7 linked regions of the Homo sapiens genome follow. The protein of the gene in region 7 interacts with the protein of the main gene of each other region in a pairwise test. Each region holds a gene or a part of one and is shown on either strand. Other genes may lie near its edges.

Evidence for each region.
Region 1: the proteins of WWOX (region 7) and SMR3A interact in binary tests that used the Homo sapiens proteins (3 or more experiments, as listed by UniProt).
Region 2: the proteins of WWOX (region 7) and CREB5 interact in binary tests that used the Homo sapiens proteins (3 or more experiments, as listed by UniProt).
Region 3: the proteins of WWOX (region 7) and PBX4 interact in binary tests that used the Homo sapiens proteins (3 or more experiments, as listed by UniProt).
Region 4: the proteins of WWOX (region 7) and NDUFV2 interact in binary tests that used the Homo sapiens proteins (3 or more experiments, as listed by UniProt).
Region 5: the proteins of WWOX (region 7) and GCM2 interact in binary tests that used the Homo sapiens proteins (3 or more experiments, as listed by UniProt).
Region 6: the proteins of WWOX (region 7) and MYOZ2 interact in binary tests that used the Homo sapiens proteins (3 or more experiments, as listed by UniProt).

What each region holds. Positions count from the first base shown.
Region 1 is NC_000004.12:70,363,264-70,368,100, reverse strand, and holds the end of SMR3A (submaxillary gland androgen-regulated protein 3A precursor), read right to left. Parts: intron 1,458-4,837; coding exon 1,107-1,457; 3' UTR 943-1,106; downstream 1-942. UniProt on the Homo sapiens protein: May play a role in protection or detoxification.
Region 2 is NC_000007.14:28,414,932-28,419,369, reverse strand, and holds part of CREB5 (cyclic AMP-responsive element-binding protein 5), read right to left. Parts: intron 1-4,438. UniProt on the Homo sapiens protein: Binds to the cAMP response element and activates transcription.
Region 3 is NC_000019.10:19,560,716-19,564,391, forward strand, and holds the end of PBX4 (pre-B-cell leukemia transcription factor 4), read right to left. Parts: intron 2,901-3,676; coding exon 2,794-2,900; intron 1,403-2,793; coding exon 1,310-1,402; 3' UTR 998-1,309; downstream 1-997.
Region 4 is NC_000018.10:9,105,201-9,109,638, reverse strand, and holds part of NDUFV2 (NADH dehydrogenase [ubiquinone] flavoprotein 2, mitochondrial precursor), read right to left. Parts: intron 1-4,438.
Region 5 is NC_000006.12:10,871,785-10,875,882, forward strand, and holds the end of GCM2 (chorion-specific transcription factor GCMb), read right to left. Parts: intron 3,150-4,098; coding exon 2,211-3,149; 3' UTR 1,439-2,210; downstream 1-1,438. UniProt on the Homo sapiens protein: Transcription factor that binds specific sequences on gene promoters and activate their transcription. Through the regulation of gene transcription, may play a role in parathyroid gland development.
Region 6 is NC_000004.12:119,159,124-119,163,561, reverse strand, and holds part of MYOZ2 (myozenin-2), read right to left. Parts: intron 1-4,438.
Region 7 is NC_000016.10:78,112,656-78,117,093, reverse strand, and holds part of WWOX (WW domain-containing oxidoreductase), read right to left. Parts: intron 2,119-4,438; coding exon 1,940-2,118; intron 1-1,939. UniProt on the Homo sapiens protein: Putative oxidoreductase. Acts as a tumor suppressor and plays a role in apoptosis. Required for normal bone development. May function synergistically with p53/TP53 to control genotoxic stress-induced cell death.

The sequences.
Region 1 (4,837 bases), on a different chromosome or scaffold from region 7:
TGGCATGCACCTGTAATCCCAGTTAGGAAGCTGAGGTGGAATTTCCTGAGCTCAGGAATTCATGGCTACAGTGAGTTGTGATTGCGTCATTGTACTTCAGCCTAGGTGATGGGAGTGAGACCCTTTCCATGGAAAGAAAAAAAAAAGGAGAGCATTAAACACAAATAAAAATTGTGTGCTTACTTTAGGTGTCTTAAGAAGTTTTAATTTATAAGTGTTTGATGGCAATGTGGAAAGTTAAGTGTCCTGAAGAAAAAAGTCAAACATGGAATGGAAAGATAAAGCTCTCATGACATCATGAGGCCATTTCCTAAATAGTCGTATCATAATACTTCTGATTCAAACATCAACAAATAGATGCAGTAGAAACTTGGAAATCTCAGCCATCAGCTTCTTCTTATTGCTATCTGAAACCATTTCCTATCTCTATCTTAGCTTAGAAAATGATTTTTTCATATCAAACTCTAAGACTTGTGATTCACATCTCAGATATTTAGGTTTGTTAGAATGGTGTTTCTTCTCTGCAACTATTTATAAGCAGTGATCAGATGGTACTCAGGAATTTTTATGGGGCAAGCTATGGTAAGGGCTAAGATTCTTTCATTTTAGTATCTATTAACACTTATTTTGGGCTTTGTAATTGTATGATGGGTTGCCATACTGAAGAGGGCATCTTGTTGCCTACTCTTCTAACTTTGTAACTCTAAGGTTCAAGTCCAAGTGTCTCATTGCATTTTTCCTTAATTTACTTTTTTGGCTTCATGGGACAAGGCCAGGCTCTGTTAGCACTAATATTCATTTAGGTGACATAACTGGGGTGTAAACTATTGGCTCTGATAACAGTGGATACTTCATATTGTTGCTCAATTCTTTATTTTCCCCTACTGATATAAAGGTTCATGGGGATCGTTTCACAATTTCTAAGATATTTCTCCCAAAAGCTCAGTGCTTTGGAAATCTTTATTCTCATCCAAAAATGGAAGTGATTTTATCTAAAAGTCTCTTGGAAGTAGTGTTGAAATTCTTATTTTTGGGTAGTAGAAGCAGTAGTTACGAGGGTAGTGTTGTCTTTTGTGGGTGGTGGCACCTGTTGCAGTTGTCTGTATTTAGGGTGCAGGAGTAGGGAGGGCAGGATCAGTTGGAGAATTTACAGGGAAAAATGGAGGTCCAGGTGGATAGGGTCTTGGTTGGGAAGGTGGCTGTGGATAACCTGGGCCATAAGGAGGAGGAAGAGAGTGTGATTGAATTCTCCCTGGACCATAGGGTGGAGGAGGGGATGGTGGGATTCTCCCTGGACCATAGGGTGGAGAAAGGGGTGGTGGAAATCTCCCTGGACCATAGGGTGGAGGATGGGGTGGTGGAACAAATCCTGTTCCAAAAGGAAAACATGGTGGAGGAGGAGGAGCCAGTGGTCCAGGTGGATATGGTCCCCTGGGGCCTCTTTGACTCTCACCAGGCTGTGGAAACAAAGAAGTAAATAATTTTAAATCAGATATTTCACAGTTAAATATAAGGGTGAATGGTTTCTATGGTAAGCAGAACTCTGAGATGGCCTCAAGATTTCTACTCCCTGCTGGCACATGCTGGCCTGACCTTATCAGGTGAGCCCTTTTAAAACAGGTTCTACAATGTGAGAAGGAATCAGAGAGATTTGAAGCTGCAGCAAATGCTTTCCTCTGGGCTTTGAATCAAGATGCCGTGTTGTGGCGAGGGCCATGTGGAAGTACATGGTAGACTGGCTATAGGAGCTGAGAGTGGCCCCTGGCTCATAGGCAGCAAAAAAAATAGGGGCTTCAGTCCAACAACCAAGGGACTGAATCCTGCCAACAACCATGCAAGCTTAAAAAAGGACACTGAGGTGCAGAAAAAAAAAATACAGCAATGGACACACCTTTTCAGCCTGTGAGACTCTGAGCAGAGAAGCCACCTAAGCCAAGCTCAGAGTTATGGCCAAAGAAACTGAGATAATAATGAGTTTTTAAAGGCTACTAATTAGTGGTAATTTGTTATTGAGCAATAGAAAATTGTTAAATGTATCTAAGTTATGATGTATGAACTTCTGTATCAAAGAAAAATGTTTCTCTTTTGCCCTCTGAATACCTAGGCTCTCAATGAAAGCTTGGATAGTATTGACTGGAAAAAATAGATAATGAGCAAAAATCTTATCCTTGGCCTGTAGTGAAGTCTGTCATTCCAAATTCTAAATGGAAATAAATGCCTTTGCAGCATGGGAAAGACACGTCTTTTTATGTCTAATTCAAGAGTTCAGGGTTGTTCTGGGCTTTGAACATTAATTAATTGTGAAACACATGTGAGCAACTATTTTGTGCAATGAGCTAATGAAGGAGCTGGTTCATTCATGTCATGAATGTCAACCTGGCAGTTTGCCAGGGGTACAAACATGTCTTCTATGAATCCACAGGCTGAGTAATTACAATACAGGGGGGGATAAATGTGATCTAAAGGGAAGTGAAATGAATGGAATGAGTGTCTGGGATTTCATGCCAGTGTTTGAGCTCTCCTTCTGGCACATAGAGATAGGGTGAGTATAGAATCCTTTTTGAGTCTCTTTTTCTTATCAGGAAAATGATGTTCATAAAAGTACCCATCTCCTGCGGTTGTTGTCACATCTATTGTGAAATATCACCTGTAAAGTGCCTAGGGTGGTGCTTATCTCAGGTCTGGTTTACATAGAGTACAATTTTTAGAAATGAAAATAGCTGAGGCTGGATATGGTGGCTCATGCCTGTAATCCCAGCACTTTGGGAGGCTGAGGTAGGTAGATAGCTTTAGGCCAGCAGTTCAAGACCAACCTGGACAACATAATAAGACCCCATCTCCATTAAAAATCTAAAAATAGCTGAAAAGTAGTGCAAGGAACAAATACATTAGGGATTTAAAGAGATCAGTTCTGGATAGGAAAATGATAAAGGATTGTCTCTGTGATAAGGAGTTATTGAAAAGAGGCTTAAAGAATACAAAATAAGGAGGGAGCATGCCAAATAGAAGGAAAATATGCAAATGCTCTGGGGTAAGAATGAAGTTCCACTCTACTGACGGCAAGAACTCCAGGTTGCTTGGAGCAGATGGTTTATATAGGGCACAAAACTACATTCACTTCTTGTGGTTCTCAGTCCCTTCACCTATTTGTCTGGCCATTACCCTTGCTAATCCTAAACTTTAGTATTACGGTAAACCATCTTTCTCCTGGATTCCTAGTTCCAGGTTCTTAACAATGCTAGAGGATGTCACAAGCACTGTACCATCAGAAAGTTAGCGTCCTTCAGTGCTGCCTGAAATCCTTTTTTGAGTATCTTACCTTAGATTATCTCTTCCCACTTCCCCAGAGGCCTGTAATTTTCCAAGTTGATGCCAATTTTATAAACATTCTCCACTTCATCCTGAGCTCTCATCTACCCCCACCAAACTGGCTTTTCTCCTGCTTCACCAAGATATTTCAGGCAATTAGAAACGAACTTCCCTGATTTACTGGCCACACAACCATGGAGTCATTGATAGCTAGACAGTTTCTTTTTCTTTATAATTGTTTTCTGAGGGACCTGGCTCTGTCAGTCTTCTCTTTTACTTTCTGCAAGTAATATCTGCCATTTAATTAGCTCATTTTCTTCAGAAAAACACTATCATTTATGTTCAACTCAATTTTTTTTCTCCCTATCCTATCAGCTCTTCATCCCACTCCCTGAATTCTAAATCTAACCACTTCTTATCATCTTTCTTGCTTTCATTCTCATCTGTCATTTACTTTTACCCAAATTACTGTAGGGCCCGTTGATTTGACCTCTTGATTCTAATCTTGCCGCTTTCACCTAACACGTACAGAGAGGTCGAAGACATCATTTGGGAAATAAATATAAATTGATATTTCCCTGTTTATAAAAGATTCAGTTTCAACCACCAATACCCTTGTTGTTGTGACCTCCTTTTCACCTCTTTCCTGCAAAGCAAAGCTCTATGAAAGAGTATTCTAAATTTGCCAACCCCACTTCTCACTTCCCATTTGCTCTTCAACCTGGCTTTTGCCCTTAACATGCCGGTAAAAGTTTTATTCATATCACCAATGAAACAAACAAAAAATTCCAAGGCACTTCTGTGGGACCAGCCTTGCATTTGTCTTCTCTAGCTAGTGATGGTTCAAGTTGTTATGCAGGGTGTTTGACCCAAGGGCTGCCAATCCAAGGACTAGTCAGGTTATGTGGAAGTTCAGGATTTGATTTTTTATTGTCAAGAAAACAAATCCTTAGTATGGAAAAATATTTCACACATTTTTATTGTTGAGACAATTAAAAAATTAGCTGAAAGTACCTTTTCCTAAAGATATACCGATGTTGATCTAAATATTATGTAATGAAAAATCTTCATAGTAAATATCTATTCTTTTCCTGTTCTCTTAACCCAATCGCAGTGATAAGCTCCCTTTCCACAACTGGCTAAAGTAAAATGATGAAAATGATGAAAATACTATATTAGGAAGAAACACTCCCCTCTCAAAGGGCTATAATTAATGTTAATCTCCTACATTATTCAATTTAGCAATAATCCAGCTAAGACATGCATAATTTGAATCTAAATTTATTTGTATTTTAGTGAGATTAAAAATAGTGAGACTTGCTTTGAGGATTAAAGAAGAGATAATGTATGTAATGCATTTGGAAAATTACCTATAACAGAGAAAACACTCAAAAGGTAACAGGCTGAATATGATGACTTACCCCATCTACAAATATGTATATGCAAAGGACATGCTACCCTTCACATTTCCAATGTTCAGTAATTATTAATCATCATTATCATATCAACTGGAAAAAGGCTCATTTCT
Region 2 (4,438 bases), on a different chromosome or scaffold from region 7:
AACACAGATGGCTCCAGACCAAGTGTGAAGACAGTACATTGGCACGACAAGGGCTAAAGTGTTTTATAAAAGATAATTTAGGAGGTAGGGCTAGAGTCTATCTTGCTCAACAAATGAATCTGTACAGACCTTTGCCTTCAATCCCCAAAACAGATGAGTAACTTACATCATTAATCTCATTGTCTCTCCACACAATACTTTTAACAGTCAATCACAAAGTAGCCTGAGAGAAAGTTTCCCTGGATACTACCAAACACACAGGTTTGCAACAGATGTCTCCATGCAACTTTTAAAACAGATTCCATGTTAAGAAGTTAATATATCCTTATGTATTTACTAATCAATCCAGCTACATGTAGCCTGAAGCTGGAAAGTAAGAGGTATTAGCAAGGAAACCATTTAACTGCAAATAATGCATGGGAAAGCACCCGAAAGAATGTTATTTATAAATACAAAGACAAGCGCAATAGTACAAGCAATTGGAAAATCCCTACCTGGAAGCAACCCAAAGCAGTGCTTCTATCTGGAATATCTGGAATACATGGCACTAATAAATGTGAGCTCTTTTCTCATACCGACCACCCATCTAATCAATGAGCAGGATGCCTAGCCTTGGCAATCTCTTAGTTTTCCCATCTATAAAATGGGGATTAGAGATATGTGTTAATAAATGAAAGCTAACATTCTTCCAATGAATGACATTACAGAAAACACAAATATCACCACAAAATGTAGAAAAACATGTAATTTTATATTTAAAACTAGTTTATAGTCATGCTTTAAAGGCGATATGGTTGAATAGACATGTATTTGGACATAGATGGCTCTGCAGGGGATAAGGAGAGAGAGGGTCAGAGTGAAATGACTCATGAATTTGGGGATGCAGAGGCTCTCTGCAGCATGAAGTCACAAGAGGCTGACACCAAGGTCTCTCCTCCCCTCCACAAACAATTCTGTCTGTAGACTTCACAAGAAGGTGCGTGAGGAGTTTGGAAATTATTTTTTATTTTATACTTTTTGCATCCTTTAGTGAATGCACAGACTGGTGTATTATAAAAAACAGGTATATTAAAATAAAGCATTCTGATGTGCATTGAAAAACATTGATTCTTCTAATATTTTAAAAGGTGACAAATAAAAATGAATACCTTAAGTCTAGGAGGTTATAACTAACATCTTGACATGAGAAAATCTGGTCTAGGCAATAACACAAGTTTGTTAAAAGCTTGGAAGGAAGAAAATTCTGGGGGATCCAGATGTCTCAACTGGAGTAAAAATTTCCCTCCCCAAACAACTAAAGGCAAGTATCTGGGGCAAAAGAGTAAGCTGGCAAAATACTGTAACTGAAATGTGAGAATCCTGACCTTTTCCGAAACAGAGGGTTTCTACGAGGTTACATGTAAATCAAATCCTAAATTAAGATTTCTAGTGAAGCAGACCATTTAAAACACCCACGTTTGAAAGTTACACAAAACAGAGCCCATTTGTGGTGCAAAGAATTATTGTCTAAGTTATTCATTCTGTAAATTTTAATCTTTATCAGTTATATTTTCTTAAATATGTGTTGCAGGGTGCAGCATGCTTGTAACAACTGCTTGCTGCCCTTGAACTCTGAATGAACGCTTTACTGCAATCCCTTTCCTGAAATAGAATCATAGAATATTAGAGTAGAAGATTCCTTAGAGATCAGTTAGAACCGTGGTTCTCAACCTCTGCTACACATTGGAAACACTTGTGGAGCTTTTAAAATATACAGAGGCTCAGGCCTTCACCCCAAACCAATTAAATCAGAATGTCAGAGTGGAAGGGTATCAGTGTTTTTTAATAAGTTCCACAGGTGGTACTACTGGGCTGCCAGGATCATAAACCACTGATTTACCCTGTGTTGTCTGATACCATAGTCACCGACCACACGTGGATATTGAGCACTTGAAATGTGGCTAGTCCAAATTGAGATATGTTGTAGTTGTGAAATACACACTGGATTTCAAAGATTTAGTACCAAAAAAAAAAAAAGAGAGAGAAAGAGAGAATGTAAAGTAGTACATTAACATTTTTATATGGATTATATGTTTAAATGATAATATTTTGGATATATCAGGTTAAATCAAAGTGTTATTAAAATGACTTCACCTGTTTCTTTTTAACCTTTTTAATGTGGCTACTAAAACGTTTAAAATGAAATGTGCAGCTCACATTTGCAGCTCTCACTACCGGACAGTGCTGGGTGAGCCCGACATTCTCATCACAAATGAAGAAACTGAGGCAGAGAAGCACAATAAGCTCAAGGCAGCTCTCTGGGAATTGCGTCCCTCCTCCAGTCTCAGGCTGCTCATTGTTGCAGAGCCACGAATGGACAGAGCTTGTTATGCCATCAATCTAATTTCAACTCTTCTTCCCCCCTTTTGTTTTGCTAATTGTTTCTTCTAAGATTTGATATAAAAATCTATTTTCCTTATGGAAAAATATCTCTGCTCTGCTGTGTACACATTTGTGACTTGTTACTGCAGGATTATTCATCAAGGCAGAGTAGTTGAAATGGATGTTAAAGAATGAATCTAGGGAAACACTACCTGAAGGAAAATGCAGAGAATAGACAAAGAGAACATTTTGTCATGCTGTAGTTTAGAAAATGACCCTGGAGGCCCCCAGCGTTCTGACAGTCACCTTCGACACAGGATCATTCCCTGATATGATTTTAGAAGCTTGAGCCTATAATATTGTTTCTCCTCCTAGGAGTCAGTGTTTTTCTGCACAATGTTGTCATTGCAGTGAGGCAAATCAGACCCTTCATGATGGTGCACCACACCATAGCTAGATACCCTGGTGGAAACGGACTTTATCCCAATGCCTTCTACTGTCTGATGCATGAATTAATACCTGGCCAGTCAGAAGCCAACTTACTTAAAGGAGAAGATCTTGTTTTGATAAAGTGAAATGGTCCTACCAGATCTGGCAAATAGAGATTACATGTATTTCTTCTAATAGTCAGCTAATTCAAACAAAAACAAAAATTTTGTTGTTGTTGTTGTTGCATGTATTTTTCCCCCTTAGGAAGCCAACAGAGAGAGGACTGCATAAAACTGGCTGAAATGTGTTCTATTGGAGAAATCATGCCTGCAACACAGGAGCTCCTCAGTGTAATAAAAGAATAAAAAGAGACCTGAATTCTGATATAAAATCGCATGCAAACAGCTGGAGAGGAAACCTGTGGGTGAGGCCAAACAACACATGCAGTAGGTGCATTCAGGATTTCTATTTAGACATTGTTATTCCCCATCTTAAATACAGCACAGACTAAATATCATCTTAAATCAAATGTGTGGTGCTCTAGAGCCCTCTGTGTTGCATGCATGAATTTTTTTGGTTATGATTGGTCAAGTTTTGCCAGTCAAACCTCAAAGAACATACTTCCAGACTCAATTCACTTCTCGTCACCTCCAAACACACTCATATATATCCATCTGGAAAGATAATGTATTACAGACAGATCCTAGGCAAAGGTACACCTTCTAGAGTGAAAACATCACCCGTTTCTCTATTTGACAAAAAAGGTTATTTATTTTAACTTTAAATAATATTTCAGATCCCGTCCTCACAGATAATAGAGAAAAGACAGGTAGTAGAGAAAGTCACTGCCTTGTTCTTGAGACAGTCTTTCAGACCATTTTTAGTCCTGCCTGGTTTTTACTCTCAAATGAAATCTGGATGGTGTGGTTTTACAGGGTATGTCTCATAACAATGATGAAAAAAGGAGAATTTAAGTTAAAATTAATTAAGGAGGCCCTTATTAGAAAAAATAACATTGCAGATATTATATAAGAATGAATGAAATAGAAACTACAGTTTTTATGATTAAGGTGTTCATTCCAAAGATCTGATAAAAATTTGTCTTTGAAAGATTAGTCATCAAAAGGCTTGAAAAGAGTGAAGGATACAAAGTCATAGGTTATGCCCCATTCCTGACAAGGGCATTTATGGCAGGAGCACCCGACCTGGAGGCAGGGACCAGGCTTCTCAGCCTGGTTTGGCTCTCTCTAGCTCTGGGCCTTGGGTGAGCCAGGGGTCTCTTCTGTAAAATGAAAAATTGGTCTATCAATCCGAGGCCCTCCCCTAGCCCTACCATCCGTGTAAAGCCATAAGCCTTTGTAACTCACCATCAGAATCTCTAGGCCTAAAAGAACTCCCTCTAAAATCAGTTCTAGTCAAACGCCAGCCTGGTAGTTTTCAATCCTTGTTAAGGATTGAAATCCTAAAATCTTTTTAGGGTTAAGATCAGAAATGTAACCTTAAGGAAATAGAAGAAAGCAGCTGAAATACATATTTTTAAAGTGATAAACTGATTCTGATCTATTTCTCAGGGGGTGAGGGGGAAGGCAATACAGTGAACTTGGAAAAAAGAAATATTGAAATGTCAATATAATATCTTTTATGGGTT
Region 3 (3,676 bases), on a different chromosome or scaffold from region 7:
AGAATCGCTTGAACCTGGGAGGTGGAGGTTGCAATGAGCCGAGATGGCGCTATTGCACTCCAGCCTGCGCGACAAGAGCAAAACTCTGTCTCAAAAACAAAACAAAACAAAACAAAACAAAAAAACAGCAAAAGAGCAAATAGAGCAAAACCCGAAAAAAGTGCAAAACTAATTCCCAGTAAAATTGAGCTCCGAACATAAAATAAATATATATAATTGAGACAGGGTCTCACTCTGTCACCCAGGCTGGAGTGCAGTGGCGTGATCTCAGCTCACTGCAGCCTTAACATCCCGAGCTCAGGTGATTCTCCCTCCTCAGCCTGTTGAGTAGCTGGGACTACAGGCATGCGCCACCATGCTCAGCTAATTAAAAAAATTTTGGGGTGGGGGGCGGTCGGGCACGGTGGCTCAAGCCTATAATCCCAGCACTTTGGGAGGCTGAGGCGGGCAGATCACTTGAGCTCAGGAGTTCAAGACCAGCCTGGCTAACATTGTGAAACCCCATCTCTACCAAAAATACAAAAAATTAGCTGGGCATAGCGGCAGGCACCTGTAATCCCAGCTACTTGGGAGGCTAAGGCGGAAGAATCGCTTGAACCTGGGAGGCAGAGGTTGTGGTGAGCCGAGATCACACCACTGCACTCCAGCATGGGTGACAGAGCGAGAATCTGTCCCCCAAAAAAAAAAAAAATCTGAAAGCAGAATTTTTTTGTAGAGACGAGGTCTCACTATGTTGCCCAGACGGGTCTCAAACTCCTAGGCTCAAGCAATCCTCCTACCTCGACCTCTCAATGTGCTGGGATTACAGGCATGAGCCACTGCTCCCAGCCAGGACATTTTAAAATCAGAACAGAATGATACGGTCCCACAGAAGACAGTGTTGGGAGTCTGTGCCTGAGCGGCGCAGGTGAGTGGCAAAATCACAGCACACATGACACTGCAGCTGTGACCGGTGTCAACTACCACCCAAAACAAATCTGGCAAACAGACATCGGAATTAAAATAAGTCAAAAATTTTAATGGGAAAATCTGTGCCCAGTCCTAGAACAGACAATTCAATTCATAGCGTTACCATAAAATTACTGTCAAAAAAACGAACTGAAGTGGGAGAATGAGTGGCGTTTCAGGCCATCTCGAGTCGCAGCAGACACATGAGCCGGCGCCACGGGCCTGGCTGAGGAGCAGGGGCTCATGGGCACCACCACCCATCTGGGTTTTCTGAGGTCGTCGGCGGCACGTTCAGTAACAAAGCAACGGCTGGCGATACATGGCAGCTCACGCAGCGCTCTTTCCTGCTTATCCCCCAAACTTAATTAGATGTACTGGAGTTGATGCTGCCAGGGTCTCCAGCAGGTGAGGCAGTTGCAGGTTGGGGGGTGGCCCCCTGCCAGCTACCCTGGGCCTGAAACGACAGAGACTGAGCATCAGAGTGGGTGGCCGTGAGACTGGTGACTACCCAGCCCACGTGCTGCAGGCGGAGCCTCCAGGGGTCCCTGGGAAGGCTTGGAAAAGATCCACAGATGACCTCCAGCTCAGTGGAGGAGGGAAGGGATGGAGGGGTCGGTCCTGGGTCACAGCTGGCCTTGCCACCTGACATGGGACATGGACGAGCTTCCCCGGCAGGAAAACTGGCCTCTAGTGGCTTCCCTGGGGCTTAGGCAAAGGACTGACTGGCATCGGGTACAACAAGGGCTCCTGCCCGGCGAGGGGCAGGGAGGCAAGGTCAGGCCTGGAGCCCATGATGACGCCCGGAGCGTCATGGTGAGACTCGGTGGGAAAAAGGGGCTCTGAAACCTGGCCCAACACTGGCCTGGCTGGGCAGCAAGGAGGGTGGGAGGCAACCACTTGTCATAAGGGGTGGGGGCTCTGTCTGCAGTGCAGAGACGGCATCACGTCCAACGGCGCTAAGACGTTTGTCCACAGGACCCACCCCCACTATGGTGGGCACGGTACAGGTTAAGGAAGTGGCTGGGACTGCTCTGCCCGTGAGTGTGGGAGCAGCTCAGACGGGTGCACCACCTGGGGGCACTCTGCTCTGAACTGGGGTGGACACACAGCTGCTGGCGCGTAGTCAGGTCCCAGGGGTGCAAAGGGCAAGGTGAGGCCCCTCACGTGTGTCCCTGGCTGGGGGCTGCATGGTGATGGGGGGCAGCTGCCACAGCAGGACAGTGTGGGACGTGTGCTTCCCAGGACCAGGTGGGACCCCACAGACAGCACAGGAGGCATCCGTTCTCTGAACCCCTGGGAGAGAGTGGTGAGTTGGGAGGGGCACCCGGCTCTGCAGTGCCCTGGCACACACCACACACACAGCCTCGTGCCTGTGCTGGGCACATGACACCTGGGCCTCCTCAGTGTCTTCAAGACGGTCCCCACTCGCTGCCTTCCCAGCCAAGCTGCGGCACTGAGGTCTGAGCCCGAGGGAAGGCCCCATCTCTCCTCCGGCCTCCTCTGCTGGCTGCCTGCCCCTCCCTCTCGAGGGAAGGACACCATGTCCTCCCACAGTCCTCTAGGAGGTGCCCTTCCCCTCCACAGCCAAAGCCCTCATCTTGGGGTTCATCCCCACTGACTGTTCCCAGCGGCTGCCGTGGTGACAAGTGGAGGTGGGGGAGGGCACAGTCATTACAGAGTGGGGCCCTGCAGAGCTGTGCCCCAGAGGTGGCCGCGCAGCATGGCCTGTGTGGCTGCTGGGACCTCTGGGGAAGCTGCCCCAAGGCCGAGGGGTGGCTGACAAGACGACCCTTTCTGAGAACCTACCACCCACCTGGGCGCTGTGGGACAGTGCCTGAGACTCACCTGGGACTGCAGGCAGCCTCCCCCAGGAGGAGGCTGGAGAGAGGCCAGAGTCCGCAGGGTGAGGAAGGCGTCCCCAGCGCTGGGCAGCGGGAAGGGTCCAGAGGAGCCTGGAAGAGATGGGAGCCGGGGTGGGCAGAGTCGTGGCGCCTCCTCAGGTGGAACCCACCCAGCCCCTCAGCCGGCAGGAGGCCTCGAATGTGGCTCCTGCCCCTCCTCAGCATCCGGCCTCTGCTCCTCAGCCCCCACCCAGGCAGGCCAGCGGGCCCTCCCCACCACACTACTCATGTCCCCTCATGGCTTGTCTTTTTTTTTTCTTTTTAAGACAGTCTCGCTCTGTCACCCAGGCTTGAGTGCAGTGGCACGATCTTGGCTCACTGCAAGCTCTGCCTCCCAGGTTCACACCATTCTCCTGCCTCAGCCTCCCAAGTAGCTGGGACTACAGGCGCCCACCACCACGCCCAGATAATTTGTTTTTTCTTTCTTTTTTTTTATTATTATTATACTTTAAGTTTTAGGGTACATGTGCACAATGTGCAGGTTTGTTACGTATGTATACATGTGCCATGCTGGTGTGCTGCACCCACTAACTCGTCATCTAGCATTAGGTATATCTCCCAATGCTATCCCTCCCCCCTCCCCCCACCCCACAACAGTCCCCAGAGTGTGATATTCCCCTTCCTGTGTCCATGTGTTCTCATTGTTCAATTCCCACCTATGAGTGAGAATATGCGGTGTTTGGTTTTTTGTTCTTGCGATAGTTTACTGAGAATGATGATTTCCAGTTTCATCCATGTCCCTACAAAGGACATGAACTCATCATTTTTTATGGCTGCATAGTATTCCATGGTGTATATGTGCCACATTTTCTTAATCCAGTCTATCA
Region 4 (4,438 bases), on a different chromosome or scaffold from region 7:
GTGCTCTTTCTACCAGCCTTTCCCTTTTACTGTCACTGGCAATACCAATAGCTCAAAATGACAAAAATTAAAGTTTTATATTCTCCCCAATAGGATTCCTTAATTGTCTTTTCATGGGCTCTACTCTTTTTCTGAATTTCTTCTGTTGTTCAAACAATACTACCATCCAACGAAGCTCACTTTTCAGTTCTATCAGACATTTGCATTATAAATGCATCCAGCTAAGAGAAGTTAATAAGAGACTAAGAAGCTGTAAGACAAAACTGACAGAAGCAGTAATCTAATTAGTCAGAAAGACAAGACTAAGGTCAGGCAATTCAAAAACCCTTCTTTTTTCCTTTATTAGAGGCCAACTAAGGCAAGGAATATACCTTTTAGATGATCCCTAATATTTACAGATTAAATCCACCAAGATATCTATTTGCCTGTGCAAGAGTCACAGTGCACACATGAAACATCTCTAGTGAATCCAAAGTGGTCTGAGGTCCCTCCGTGCCTTCCTCTCACTGTTCACAACATCTGCTGACTTGTTACCTACAGCCTCCCCTATTGCCAGCTCAAGCAAGAAAACTGAAACCTCCTAAAAAAGTCAGGGTCTGCAATACATTCATTCAGACTAGGTAATTTTACATTTAAAAAAAATCCTTGAGGCTGGGTGCAGTGGCTCATGCCTGTAATCCCAGCACTTTGAGAGCCGAGGCAGGTGGATCACTGGAGGTCAGGAGTTTGAGACCAGCCTAGCCAACATGGTGAAACCCCATCTCTACTAAAAGTACAAAAATTAGCCGGGTGTGGTGGCACGCACCTTTAATCCCAGCTACTTGGGAGGCTGAGGCAGGAGAATCGCTTGAACCCGGGAGGCAGAGGTTGCAGTGAGCCAAAATCACGCCACTGAACTCCAGCCTGGGCAACAGAGTAAGACTCTGTCTCAAAAAAAAAAAAAAAAAAATTCCATGAAAAACAAAAGTTTTTCAGTGCATTTTATTTTAACAAAGTTGATGCTGGGTTAATAATTGTGAAATCTATTTCAAGGATAATCATAAATACAAATGCTTACTCTATGTCAGATCTCATGCTATAAACTACAAATCTACACTATAATCCATTTATTCCTCTCAGCAAGCCTACCAAGTAGGTATTATTATCTTGTTTTACAGGTGAGAAAATTAAGGCTCAAAGAAGGGGGAAAAACTTTCCCTAGCTCACACAGCTAAATAAATGAAATGCCACATACAGATTTTCCTGACTTCAGTACATGCCTTAACCACTAAAATTTAAGTTTTGCTGTATTTTCAGATAGAAATAGGAGGACTTTTACAAACATCCTCCAAATAAAGTTCCATCAGTAATTTACCTAAAAATGTTAATTCAGGTTAAAATGTAAGTAATTTTTACCATACTATGAGAGAATTAACAAATGTAATTTGGCTAAATTTTATATTATAGAAAAGCTGCATGAAGAGCCCAGGTATTACAGGCACTGTGCATTACAGATTAAGATAACAGCATTAATGATTCCAGCCATCTTGACCATATATTAAAGAAAACATTCTTTAGATATCTAAAATCCCACATGGATATAAGCAACAACCAATTGTTCTAAGGACAAGAATAATTTATAGAAATGAAATGCCCATCCAGTGGACCCGGGGTTCAGTCTCACCTCATGCACTTCAGTGTCTTTGTATATGTAGCTAGCTATACCTACAGCATTATCTCAACTTACACCTTCCACTCATCCATCATGACCAAGGTTAACCTCCTCCTCTTACCCCTTTAAAGCCCCTAAACCTCCATCTCCTACCCCTTTAAAGCCCCTAAACCTCCATCTCTTTTCCCTAAGCAAAGTGAAATCATTTCCCTAGTCTGCTTACACTGGTACACCTTTTATTATTAGAGTGCCTATTAAATTTAAATCTTCACCATACATAGTGATTTCCCTTAGCAACTTCAATTGTTTGAGCAACTTCAGAAAGGTAGATTAAAAACAAAACAAAACAGGACTTGCGAATAAACCCAGCCCTTACTACTGTGTGATCTTGGGCATTTATTTGTCCAGCAATCTTCATATATCTCACACATAAAATGGGGTAACACCTAGCAAAATATCCGACAGATAAAGCCACCTTCCCCCTAACCAAAATGTGTGTAAACTGTCTTTGATGTTTTGTAATGAAAGACATTTCCTACAACTGATTTATAACATGCTTCCTGAACTGATTCAAAAACTAGTGACAAGGTTCCTCATTGGAAAATCAGACTGACTGTCACTCAATAGGTTATACAGCATGGGCAACAGACCTGTAATTTATTACTCAATGTTCTGAGCACTAAGGTACTAAACAGTGCCCAAAGAGAAAGGAAAGTCAACTTTTTATTACTTTGAAATGGAAACTGAGTTCAAGTCTCTAATAAAAAGATCCGAGTCTGCAGTTTGCAATAGTGGCCTACTGAACCTCACTGCATAAACTAAAGTTTGTTCATTCTCTCTCTCCTTAAACTGCTAATTTATGGCTATGGCAGGCAGAATAATGGTCTCTCAAAGATAACCACATCCTAATCCTGGAAACCTGTGAGTATTAGTTTACACAACAAAAGAGAATTAAGGCTGCTAATCAGCCGACCTTAAAATAGGGAGATTATCCTGGATTATCTAGGTGGGCCCAATGTCATCAATCACAGGGTTCTTACCAAGAGGCAAGGAAGGATATGTGATGAATGCCAGGAGGGTCGAAGTGATGTGATATAAGAACTAGACTTGCCTTTGCTGGCTTTGGAGATGAAAGAAGGGGCCAAGAGCAGCCTCTAGAAGCTGGAAAAGCCAAGAAAAGACATTCACCTCTAGAGCCTCCAAAAAGGAATGAAGCTCGGGCTACACTTTAATTTTAGCCCACTGAGACCTGTGTCACTTTTAACCTACAGAACTGTAAGGTTAAAAATATAATGTTTTATGCCACAAAGTTTTGTGGAAATTTGTTACAGCAGGAATAAAAAACTAAATGTTTTGGGGTGTTTTTCCTACATTAACTTCTTTAGAGTCCTTTGAGTCACAATGGAGATACACTGGGACATTACAAAATCAAGTTTAAGAATCTCTAATGGAATGGGGAAAACATTTCATTGTACAAAACTTAAAATTTGGAAGGAAAAGTACCACCACACAAGATGGCATACTTCTAGTATGGCTAAGTAGACACTGTCAGGGCAAACCACTGAATAATAACTATAAACTCTGGACAAAATATTTTATAAAAACAAAAGCTTTCTGAAGGCACTGGGGAACAACCAAACAGGCAGACACAGAAGGGGAGTCTACATTCATAAAAAACCAATGAGGTTTTTGTTTTTTCTTCACATCTTTTAGCCTGAAGGCAGGCCTCAGTGAGAGTTTGGAACAACAGACATGGTAAAGTGGGAAATCCTAGAAAAGGAAGAGCCAGAAAGGGGGAGGGAGCCCTATACATTCTGTATATAAATTCTACGGAAATCTCTGGCTGAACCCTGAACCATGCATGTACATGCTGCAGACTCCAAGGAGCCTAGCTAAAAGAACGGAACCAATATTTGATCTGCTGCCCACAAGGGATATGGATAGCAACAACAAAACACACTATTTGGAGGAATAAAACAGGATCTAGAGCCTCTACAACGTATCATTCACAAAATTCAGCATACAATCCAAAATTGTTCAACATATGGGAAACAAACAAAAAAGGAAAACACATTTTCAAGAAAAAAATCAACTAAGATTACCAGACACAAACTTCAGGACAGCTATAATCATGCCTAAAGACATAAAGGAAAATATCCTCGATGAATGAAAAAATACACAATACAGATGGGTCGCTGACTTACAATTGCCTGTCTTGCAAATTCCCAACTTTACAACTGTATGAAAATGATAAGTATTCAGCATGCTCCTCGATTAAGTCCAGATAACCCCACTGTAAACTGAAATTTACATACTTTCAATTTACAATGGGTTTAATCAGGATGTCATCTCATTGTAAGTAAAGGAGCATCTGTAATTGAAAATGCCACCACAACCCTCTCACCTTCGAAACTACAATAGCAGCTTGGGAATGAGGCAGTGATAAGTTCTAAAGTGGCATCAACATTACAGAAAAACCATGGGCAATTACTGAAGAAGGGAATAAACTTATTCTGATTATCTATTACTCCATAATTTATAACTTTTAGTCAATTACTACAATCACCTATGAGGTATTATCTCAGTTTACAGAAAAGAAAAATGAGGCTCAAAGAGATTAAGATGGCTCAAGATCACACAAACTAATACTTAATTCTAGCCATATTTTAAGCAATGATGAGCTGAAAAGCCTCGTCAAGAGAATGGCAGCTAGCAAAGCAGAAATTAGATTAGGCAATTTCTTTGAAAGCGTAAATAATCTTTAAAGGTTTCTCATTTAGGAAAGGA
Region 5 (4,098 bases), on a different chromosome or scaffold from region 7:
GTAGCTCAGGGGACAGCTGTGAGGATTAAATCAATTAATGTATGTTCAGGGCTTACAATGTCTGACACATGGTAAATACTGATATATATATATATATATATATATATATATATATATATATTTAATTTTTTTTCTTTTTTTTAAAAAAAAATGTTCTTTATTTTTTGAGACAGGGTCTAGCTCTGTTGCCCAGGCTGGAGTGCAGTGGTGCTATCTCAGCTCACTGCAACCTCTACCTCCTGGGCTCAAGCCATCCTCCCACCTCAATCTTCTGAGTAGCTGGGACTACAGCTGTGTGCAATCACACCCGGCTAATTTTTGTATTTTTTTTTGGTAGAGATGGGGTTTTGCCATGTTGCCCAAGCTGGTCTCTAATTCCTGGGCTCAAGTGATCCACCTGCCTCAGCCTCCCAAAGTGCTAGGATTACAGGTGTGAGCCACCATGTTTGGCCAGTAAGTGCTATATAAATGTTAGATATTATTATAGCTTGTGAGTTTTGGCAATGGAAGTTCAAAGGAAAAAGTAACCAATGAGTGTACTAAGCATCTTTCCCTTTAAAAAAAATTGGTTGGTTAGAAACTCATAGGAGTGTACTCATACCTACTCAATCTTTTGTTAAGTACTGCATGCATTTATGATGTTGGAGTATTAGGCTTTTATGAATTAGTTGGATGATACAGAATGCTCAATGATTTAAAATGGCATCTGACTGACTACAATTTAGTTATACAAATTGATTATTCTATGCAAATTTGAGGATGATACTTCTAGGCACCCCCCCCCAAAATATATTGCTCCTGTAGTTTATCTTTATTTGAAAACAGAATATTTTCACTAAAGTGTGTGTGTGAACACTCCAAATGTTTTGAAAAGGCTTTCTGTTATGACAGAGTACAACAGCAGGTATTTTGCAAATAAACTACAAAACAGTCAAACTATTTAATACTTGTTTTATTTATTTATTTATTTATTTATTTTTTTGAGACAGGGTCTTGCTCTGTTGCCCAAGCTGGAGTGCAGTAGCACAAAGATGGCTGACTGCAGCCTTGACCTCGTGGGTTCAAATGATCCTCCCACCTCAGCTTCCCAAGTAGTTAGAACCACAGGCCCACTGCCATGCCCTGGGGTCTCTCTCTGTTGCCCAGAGATGAGGGCTCTCCCTGTTGCCCAGGCTGGTCTCAAACTCCTGGGCTCAAGCAATCCTCCTGCCTTGGTCTCCCAAAGTGTTGGGATTACAGGCGTGAGCCACCTCTCTCAGCCAATTTAATAAGTTTTAATGTTTCATAACAACTGTTTCCCAGGTCATAATATGAACAATTTTTTTCCTATTTCTGTTTTGAAGTCAGGCAAGAATTAGCTTCATTTAAAATGTCCTTATTACATTTAATTGAACATTATCAATTACCTTTATGAAGAATAACAGAGGAACCGTAAAGCTGTATTTCAGCAAAACATTTTAATTATAATTCTGAAACCTAATCAGAAAAAAAATGTATTTAGTACAATGGTAATCCATTAAATACAACTCATCATTGTTAGGCTGTCTCTGTTATGGAAACTATCATGTTATGAAAAGGTTATGAAAAGGTTAGGAAACTATCATGTTATGAAAAGCTAATATTGAATCTTTTAAAAACAACTGAACTTTACCATTGCTAGAGATTTTTTGAAAAGCTGTAGATACACACGTTGGAGATAAAACAATCAAAATTACTTCCTGAAGCTAGTTTAACAGGTTCTAAATGCTAAACAAAAATTTCATGAAATGACTCAGGTGATAAGATTGTAAAAATTTCTTCCTGAAGCTATTTTGGCAGCCTCTAGGGATGTGAAATTCCCTAAGGTGCTCTAATGGGAAAAGTCCTAGAATAAGAACCAGAATCCTTGACTTCTACTCCTGCTAATAAGCTAAGTGAACTTAGGTCAGTATTTAACCTCCTACAGTTTGCTTATTTGTTCATTTGAGAGACTCACACTTTCCTCACTACTTCTATGTATTGTAGCCAGTTTCAAAATGCTGTGTGAAATTTCCCATATTATCTAATCATTTCCAACTGATTATTTTCTCAGTTACTCAGAATTTTTACTACTATCTGTGTTTCTTTGCACACAAGGTGAATCTCCCAACTCAATAAGAGATCATTGCCATTTCACATTTCCCTGCCTCCTGCCTGCATGCACACTGCTATTATGTCCCCTGGATTGTCTTTCAAAAATCCTCATTGTTGTAGGTAAAGAAGGGACCCACTCTGTCTGAGTAACTGACTGCGGAGCCCAGCCCAGACAGACACACATCCCAAGTCTCTGCTTCATCTGTCCTAGAGGAAACTGGCTCGTGGGGAATAGCCACAGTGGGTCTGATGGCCCGGCAATCTCCTGCAATTTTCATAGGAGGTGGCCCTGAAGGAGAGGCTGCCCTGGTGACTGTCACCGGAGGACCCCAGGGTTCTGGATAGACAGACATCCCAGTATCTTCAGGAGCATAGTTACAGCTCGAAAGGCTCTTCACCTCTCGCACACTGTCACTGTATTTCATAGCAGGGGGCTGGTAGGCCTGGTAGGACACTTTAGTGGTGGTGGTGATCACGGTTTGTAGGGCAGGGGCACCTGGTGGTGGAGTCGTGAGGTACCTGCAGGGAAGCTCTGGGTTATAATAAGGGCGAGTGGCCATGGCCTGAAACTGCCCATGGTTAGTCCTTTCCACAAGGCTGGGTTTTCCAAGAGCTGGTTTCCAGCCATGCTGTTTGTTGGTGAAATCAAAGCTTCTCTCATAGCTGCTGTATGAATTGACATTACATTGTAGTGTGTTCAGATGAACCCAGTCTGTGTCATTAGGGATACTGGTGGAATCCTTATAAAGGGTGGGATATGGGCTTGAATTTGTATAACCAGGGTTTGCCAATTCATAGCTGCAAGGTGGCCTAGGCAAATAGATTCTTGGGCTTGAGTATTTCTGGAAGGGTGGCATTTTGTCTCCTTGAAAGGTGGCTAGGTCACAGGTAGCTTTGTAAACATCAGACTTTGGGAAGGAAGGGCAAGGCTGCCCTGGAATAGGGAAGCTGGTTTCAGTAACTATATCAAAGTCTTCTGGATTTTCCAAGGGAGGTATGTTGCTGAAATGACCACTGCTGTCTTGATTTTCTTCTGCCTAGAAAAATGATACAAACATAGACACACGCTATGTAAATCGTGTGGACACCCTCACCTGTAACAATAGCCTAGAAGTAAGTAAAAACAGACATCCATGTGCTGGGCTCTGTGTTGTGAACATGGCACTGCTCAGGTACGTGATGTAAGCACGTGGTCCAGGGGTTGCTAAGCTTGGGCTCACTCAGACATAAATACCAACGACTGAATGACAAAGGTCCATGGTAGCCAGGTAGGATGCTTCTGAGTGGCAGATGGTCCTGTTCTCACCTATACTGTCTTCCTAATAGTGGAGACTTAGGAGCCACACGGGCCTGGGTTCAATTCCTGACTCTGTCCCTCACAAATTGTACAAGCCACTTAACCTCTCTGAGCCTCAGATCCTTCATCTTAAAAATGGAACTTAATAACAGTAACCTCATTATAAGGTTTCTGCAACCATTAAATGTGTGAAACTCTTAGACCAGTGCCTGGCACATAGGAAGTGCTGGAAAATGTCAGCTTCTGTTATCCTTACACTAACACTCTGCCTGCTTGGCGTGCTTTGGTTGAAAAGCCAAACTGAATTAAATTGCGCAGAGAAATTTTATCCATTCTTGTGGATGAAATAATGGAAAGGACCCTCTCAAGGGTGCACTGTTAACTTCCTGTTGGTAGGCACATATTTCTATCTTTATTACTGTTGCATAATCGCCCTTATATTAGGATGTCAGCTCAGCACACTGACATATCAGGACTGTATCATTGCCTGTAGAGATTGTTGCTTTTTGTTTTAAGGAGAAGGGATTAGAAACCCTGTCCAAATGTTGATTTAATGATATTTTGTTACAGACGTATAATTTTCAGATGAAATCAAACCCTTGTAATTAACGTATGACCTTCATATTTTGCATAACGATCAGCGTATCTTGGGATGAAAATGAGCTGAGACCACTGTGCACTATCAGCTC
Region 6 (4,438 bases), on a different chromosome or scaffold from region 7:
TTTATTCTTCCCATAACAGCTGGGAATTTTCTGTAAATACTGTTTAAAAGTCACGGAAATTCTTGGCATAGATCTTTAAACCTTTTTCACATGCATAGAGTGACACTCTTCCAGTTTTCTAAGGCACAGTTATCTACTTTCTGTTTACACTGCCATATTACCTAGTTATATCCCTGCAATTCTCTCTTCCACCATGTCAAATCCCTTTACCACTTGATGACTTCTACTTTTAGATTTCTCTGATGCTCTTTCCCATCTCTGCAATAATTTTGATTTTCTTCTGTCAAAGCATGCCTATCTCCTCTTTACACTAAAATGTTTGTCTCCTCCAAAAAAAAAGCCCCTTCCTGATAATTCCATGTCTAAACAGTTATTTGTGATTATTTAATTTTCTTCAGATTGCCTCCAGTATCTAATACAAATCTTTTTGTGTAGGCTCCTTTTCTCTGCTTACCACTTAAATACTGTTGTTCCTCAAAGCTCTTTTCTTACACAATGCACTCTACCTAGAAAATTCCATTTATATTCATAGCTTCAATTGTGACCTATGTATTGATAATTCTGACTTTTTAAAAAAATAATCAAGCCCTCTACTGAATTATTTACTATATTTATCAAAATAAATGATCCACTGGCACCCTTTATAACCTGTCTAGACCTAAATGTAGCCATTTTCTAATATATTCTGCTTCTTTTTCTATTTTGGTCATTTTAGCAAATGTTATCACTTTACTCTCAGATGCCCAAGACAGAGCATTATCCGAAAGTCTCCCTCATCCCCACAACAAATCACAAAGTGTTACCAACTATACTACCTAAGGATTTCTAAAATAGTGGCTCTCATATTATTGTTTGTCTGAATTATCTTGGATACGTATTTAAAATGTAGATAATAGGATCCTCCCTCCAGGAGTCTGGCTTCAGTGAGTCTCAGGTATTACCTAAAACTCCAATGTTTAACAAACTCTCATACAAATCTTATGCAGGTGGTCTACAAACAGAACAACGAGGAACACTGCTCTAAAAAATTCTCTTTACATTTCCGTTACTCCTGCCCTGGGTCAGGTCCAGGTGTCTCTTGCCTGGGTGTTTGCCACAGCTTCAACACTAATCCTTTAGCTCTAACCCTCTCCCAGCCAGCCTCCACACTGCTGCCCCAGGAGACCTTCCTAACTGGCCAGCTCTTCCCCTGCTCAGGGGACCCTAATGCCTCCCAGGACAAAATCGCAACCACTCAGCATGACCCATGTGGCCCTTAAGCCCGTCCAGCCTCACCGCCTGCTTTCTCCTTTCACACTCTTTGCTCCAGGACTATGGATCTAGTTACTTGCTGCTTGGGGTGCCCCTTATGCCCCTCTACTTGGTCCATTCATTTCCTGTGCCTGGACTGTTCTCCCTACTTCTTGTCATGTGCGAATTTCTACTGTAAGCCTTGGCTTCAGGTCACCCTTCTATGCAGCCATTCCTACCTCCCCGAGGAAAGAGTTCTCTTTCCTGTGTCTTGTCTTTGTATATTATACGTAATTCTATAACCATAACTACCACATTTTATTTCCTATTCCTTTCCTGGAGTTGAACAGAGGTAAGACCTTTAAAAACTGGACAATTTTAAGTTTTATAAAATTTGTTTAAAATTCCTCAAAATCTCACCACCCTAACACAAGTATTTAGTTTTGTGTATTTTCTTCCAGTTTTTCTTCACCCATAAACGTAATGATCACATAACTAGAACATCTAGTGTAATATTATGTTTTTCCCCCAAATTTGTTTAAAATACTTTTAAATGTTTCTGTATCATGTTCATAATTATTTTAAGGGTTTCACAATAATCTATTAAATTAAGGAACCATGGTTATGTAATCTTTTCCCATTTTTGAACATTCAAGGTTTTCTAATTTCTTTTTATAGATATCATTAAATAACAACTTTTTTCTTTTTTGATAATGCTGAGTTATCTACAGAAAAGAATGTGCTTATATTTAACCTCACAGAAATATTACAATTCAGCAATGCAATATGTCTACATTTCTTGTTTGATTTTTAAATATGTTTTAATATAACTGAAATTTAGATAAATTTTATTTTTACAGTATTATGGCATTTTCATACTCTTATTTATTCATGTATGAAAAAAGTTGGCTTTTTGATACATAGTTGGCTAATCACTATAACAAATTAATTTGCTAAATTGGAATAATTATAGTTTGTTTACTGAGCTTATTGTACTTTTCAACTTATCTACTCAGAAGGAAGAATCCATTTGTACTCTTGCCTCATAGTAAAGTACATAATAATACCCCAACTCCCCATTTTCTTACTCTATATTGCATAGACATTTTCTAATATTTAATAACTGGATACTAGCTCTAAATAGGTACATAAATTAGTGCTTTAAAAATTTCTCTTAAGTTAAACATTGCATGTCCTCATTCATATGTGGAAGCTAAAAAAGGTTGATCTCCTAGGCGTGAAAAGTAGGACAGAGGATACTAGAGGCTGGGAACAGTAGAGAGAAGTGGGGACAAGAGAGATTTGTTAAAGAATGCAAAATTATAGCTAGACAGGAGGAATAAGTTATAGTCTTCTATAACACTGTAGGGTGTTATAAGAATAATACAGTTATTTATATATAAATTTATATACAAATAAGAATAATATATAGTTCAGATAGCTAGAAGGAGGATATTGAATACTTCCAACACAAAGAAATAATAAATATTTGAGATGATGGATATGTATCAAAACATCACTATGTACCCCAAGAATATGTACAATTATTACACGTCAATTTAAACGATATTAATTAGGGCTATAACAGTTGCGTTGGAGGTACATCTTTGAGGTTCCGTTAAATGAGAAAATTAAGATACAGAAAAGTGTGTTGAATATACCATTTAATAAAGCATGCAGTTTTCCCCCCACAAAGTCTCTCTCTGAATATATATAAACATACATATACAACCACACACATATTTACTCCTGATGGTCAATAAAATGCACATATGATGTTGAATTATATACACAGAAAGTGAAAATATAGATATTCTTTGGACATCTGCTCTATCTCTCTATGTCTATTAATTCTTTGAAGATAGAGATTAATTCTTCTATTCATTTTGTGATTCCATAGTGTACAGTAAAGACTACATAATAAAAGTTCTAAGTGAATGACAGCACTAAATTGTATCAACATTCACTTTTCCATATGTCCTCTCTCTTTCCTATTTAATAAAAAAAAAAAAACTCCAAAAAGTAAGCAGGGATTGTAGTACAGTGGTTGGAGCTCAGATAGTATCTGTGTATTCTATTGCATAAGAAGGATGTAAAGGTGGATGGGGAAAGAATTAACTTTAACTGAGTGCTTATTATATGTTAGGGACTATTCGCATACCATCACACTTACTTTGCACAGTGACCCTGTAAAGCGAGATTTCTTTCTCTATTTTACAGATTGAGGAAACTAGGGCCCAAAGAGATGTATTTTCTTTCCCAGCATGGTAGTAAAATGGGAAGAGCCATAGGGTTGAACCCAGATCTGTCTGATTCTAAACCTTATTTCTTTTCTCATGTGGTTGATGATGTAGATACAGACCCTATTACCTGCTTTTCTGCCATAACTTTTGTTGAAAGCTACCAGAGAACTTCATTAAAATAATCCATTTCAGAATTGTATGCATTTTAATTGTGCCTAATTGGTTTCCTTCGGTATTATTTTGCTAAGTCTATCCACAGTTTTTCTCATCGTGCTCATTAAGAATGCTCTAATACCTTATTTTTAAATAATATTTAATGTTGTACAGGTGCTGTACCTGTATAACATTATCTCAAAATATTTACATATTTTCAAAAATAGTATTACATTTGAGAAGAATGCTAGGAGTACTTTTGCTAAATTTACTGTTTATTTTACAAAAATTAGACATATATCTTTAGTTTCAAGATATAACTATTTTAAATTTTTGAAATCTATACACTACTCTTGAGGAAATGCTTGAATTTTCAAAGACACTATAGGTTACTTTGAAAAGTTGTCTAATTAGATAATGTAATTTTTTGAAAGATGTCCTATTTTAATGCCCAACATTATTTATAAAGACTATAAACTGACTGAATAAGGAGTTGATTCTCTTTTAAAATGATAAACAAATGTATACTCTTTAGGAGCTGCATTGAAAGTCCTTTGAGGGAACAGAGAAAACAAAAACAATCTCCATAAGGTCTGTTGACATGAGGCAGTTGTAAATTTGGTACCAGATCTGGGCTTAATTCTTTTTTGTTTTATTTATTTATTTTTTGTAGAGATAGGGTCTTGTTATGTTGCCCAGGCTGGTCTCGAGCTCCTGGCCTAAAGTGATCCTCAGCCTCCCAAAATGCTGGTATTATAGCTGTGAGCCACTGTGCCTGGCCCTAATTCTTTTTTCTCTTGTAATTTTAATTT
Region 7 (4,438 bases):
GCAACCACAAATTTATTCTCAATGCTTCAGAATCTCCTCCTCTCCATCAAGACTTATGTATCTAACTAGATATCACCCTTTTAATATTCTGAACCAACTCTATCAGTCCTGGATTACAATGTCGCAGGTCTGCTGTTGCAAATCTTTGAAAGAGCATTAGCTCTATTCAAGAGTCTGCTATCTAATGTCACATGGAGCAGTTCGAACACTTAACACAAAAAACAATCAGTAGTCACATATCTTACTCATTACAGAAAAAGAGTCTAGCTAGAAGATTAAGAGAATAAGATCTTTAAAGTTTCTGGCTAACTTGTTAAATTGTTAAAAAGACATTTTTAAGCCCTTAAGTCCTTTTTTCTTAATTATTCCACAATTGTATGGGTCCATGCATTCACTGTAACAGTACTTAATATGATCAACAAAATGTATTCTTCTTAGATTGGGGATCCAGCCATTGTTTTAAATATTACGCCATCAGTTTTGACTTCAATGACAATTATATAAAATTTACTCCAATGCAGAAGTTCAGACAAGTGGATTGAACATATTTGGAGCCCAGGATGAGGTATGAGAGTTGATTTGAAATAAAATCCTTTCAATTCTTAAAAAAAAATTTCCATTTGCTTCTTTACCTTCATAGGCAAGTACAGTAAAAAAATTCTCCACTCGGATGGCAACCTGGTAGATTTCACACCTTGTACAACACAATAATTGACCCTTGAACAATGTATTTTTACCTCCTGTGCCTCCCTAATCATGCTAGAAAATATTTCTGCAGCTTCAAGGAATTGTTCAAAATTAAGAAAGAAGTGCAGATGGTTAATGGGTACAAAAAAGATAGAAAGAAAGAATAAGACCTACTATTTGATAGCACAACAAGTTGATTATAGTTAATAATAACTTAATTGCACATTGTAAAATATCTAAAAGGGTATAACTGAATTGTTTATCACTCAAAGGATAAATTCTTGAGGGGATGGATACCCCATTCTCCATGATGTGACTATTTCACATTGCATCCCTGTATCAAAACATCTCATGAACCCCATAAATATAGACACCTTTATATACCCACAAAAAATAAAAATAAAAACAAAATTAGGAAAGAGAAACAAATGAGTAGAGGAGGGCATCAAGGGGGCCGTGTGAGGGCTGCGGGGGACCAAAAGGACAGAGAGAACTTGACAGAAGACAGCCAAATGCAACGTTTCATATGTCGACAAATCTGAAGATGCATATCTAAACTCAAAGCAGGTGGTTCTCACTGATTCAGATACTTATGTAAATAGATCAAAGCAAAATCAGAATAAAATCCTATGAAGAGTTATGGTTTGCTCCCGCCTTGCTCCTGTCTCCTTAATGGCCCATCATATTGAAGCAAGGATACCCTCTTGAGCCATCTACCCATGATAGTCCCTGTGGGTAAACATTGGCAATTAAGAGGTGAAGACAGGAACTCATTCTCCAATTTTATAGAGAAATAAGATCCTGTGCCCAAAAGAAAATGATATGCTCAGTGACCAGTCGAAACCTGTAGTATCCTTTGTTCCAAAGACATAATACCTTGTTGTTCCCCGTATTCTATTACCAATCAATTTTGGTTTGAATAACCCAGGTAATTGGAATATGCCCATACACCATGCAGACCAGGTCAAAAACTCTTAGACGGAGCCTGTTGTCTCTCATCCCTGAATACCAAAATAGCCACAGTCTTTTGCTGAGTGTTCAGCTTTCAGAGACTTCAAGGTCAGCCCCTACACAGGCTTCCATGACAACATTAGGATTTAAAAAGAGGTAGTGATGTTAATGAAACGATATCTGAAAAGGATAAAAGTCATGTTTAAATCAGAGAACCACTAAACAAAATTCCATTATAGCTAGATCTAAGTGGATCTCATTATAGCAGTCCCAAAGATAAATAACTAAGTGAAGAGCCTACCTATTCCTGAATTAGCTCCAGTGACCACAACCACTTTGCCAGTGAAATCCCGGCCCTGGAGAATTTCCATGGCAGTGGTGCTGCCGTCGTATCTTTGCCGGGTGGTTGGCTTGGTCGGATTATCATCCACAGTAAACGCCAGTCTTGGGTCCAAGTAGGTGGTTCTTTTATTTATATGGCTGCCCAAAAGAGAAAGCAGTGAACCCACAGCAATGAACACAGGCATTTATAAATATAAGACAATCTTATACTTTAGGAAAACCCCATTTTTCATAGACCAAAATGCTTATTCCTTAAACCTGAAAGAACTGGGGCCCACTGAATCTATCTTCTGGCCTCCAGAAGGATCACATTTGTGCCAAAAAAAGATAGTCATCGAATCCTTTCCTTCAGAACTGCCTATAACATACGCTGTAACATACAATAACTATTGCCATGTATCCTTAGATCTCAAAAAAGGCTTCTTGAGAAGGTTTTGGGCTTTTATGTAATTCATGTAAATGTAGCTATAAGATCTGTCAGCCACTCTTTTCAGTAGATTTCAATTAAATCTCTTAGCCCTGTGCAAGGGCCTAAAGACGTAGAGAAGTAGAAAACTCAAAATGATAAAGTCTTAGTTGTAAATAAGAAACCTGCCAACTACCAAAATTCTAACGATTTTCATTTTAAGACTCTGCACTCATACCTCCTACGAGCACTCATTTTGATTTGGAATTGATCTAAATCTTGTAGAAATGGTATTAAAATATACTGGAGGCTGGGCACAGTGGCTCACGCCTGTAATCTCGGCAATTTGGGAGGCCAAGGCAAGAGGACCACTTGAGCCCAGGAGTTCAAGACCAGCCTGGGCAACATAGTTAGACCTCATCTCTACAAACACTAAACAAAATTTCAAGTGTGATAGCACACGCCTGTAGTCGCAGCTACTTGGGAGGCTGAGGTAGGAGGATGATCACGTGAGCCTAAGAGATCAAAGCTGCAGTGAGCCATGATTGTGCCACTGCACTCTAGCCTGGGTGACAGACCAAGACCCTGGGTAACCATTAAAAAAAAAAAAAAAAAAAAGGCACATATGGATGAAAAGAGTACTCCTTATAATAGAATTTACTTTTTATATCTTAAATGTATTCTTGGGATATGAGATAAAGACCTCAGAATATCTTAAAAACTATTAAGAAGCCTCTAAATATAGATGAAATTTCATATTTTAAAAGTATGTGTGTGTAAAATTAGTTTAAAATATATACTCATCTCCCTATAAGTACCAAGACTCAAGAGTAATAATCCAACCTTTATTCTAATTATTACCATCCTCATCCTCATTCTATTTATAACAACCTTAATTTGTGACCCCAATATTATACACACACAACAGAGCAGTTCTATGCTAGACTGGCTCAAACTGGCTTACAAGAGCCAAACGTGACTATCTCTTCCCAATTCCTCACTTCACCTTGGCAGCATGAAATCAGCTATGGCCAAAGTATTTATACTGTGGAAACAAACAGTGGCTTTTTTCCCCCTGAAGACCTGGTGCTAAACATTTACCAGCACCCCACTGCAACAGGCTCAGAAAAGTGAGAACTAGCCAGGGGAGCCAATTTCCAGGTTCCCCCCAAAGCCCTTGCTTACTCCTCTAGATTAGACCAGGAGCTGGCCAAATCTGGCCCACTGCCTGTTTCTGTAAATAAAGTTTTATTGGAACACAACAACGCCCATCACTTGTATATTGTGTATAGCTGCTTTAGCACTACAAAGGCAGAGTTGAATCATTGCAACAGAAACCATATGCCCTGCAAATCCTAAAACATATTATCTAGCCCTTTACAGGCAAAGGAGACAGCCCCTGCTCTAGACGGGAGGCTCTCAAGCTAGGGAACATCAGGATCCCCTGGATGACTATTAGAGCGCAGATTGCAAGCCCCACCCCAGTGCTGATTCAGTAGGTCTGGGGTGGGGGCCTGGGAATGTACATTTTTATTGAATTCCCAGGTGATATTAATGCTGCTGGTCCAGGAACCATGCCTGAGAACTGCTGCTCTTGGTTGATTAATACCCATTTCAGGGAGTAACTTTCCAAGCGTGAATGCAAAGGCAAAGACTGCACAGGAGAAAATTGATTTGACTACATAAAAAATTTAAGAAATTCAGTCAGGTGTGGTCGCTCATGCCTGTAATATGAATGCTTTGGGAAGTCAAGGCAGGAGGATCGCTGAAGGCCAGAAGTTCAAGACCAGCCTGGGCAACATACTGAGCCTCAGTCTCTACAAAAAAAAAGTCTTTAAAAATTAGCTGGGCATGGCAGCATGAGCCTGTAGTCCCAGCTCCTCAGAAGGCTGAGGCAGGAGGATCACTTGAGTCCAGGAGGTTGAGGCTGCAGCGAGCTGTGACTGTGTCACTGCACCTCAGCCCTGGATAAGAAGAGCAAGACCCAGTATAAAAAAAAAAAAAGAAAGAAAACTTGGAAAAAAAAAAAAAACATTTTCAACATTTTCAACA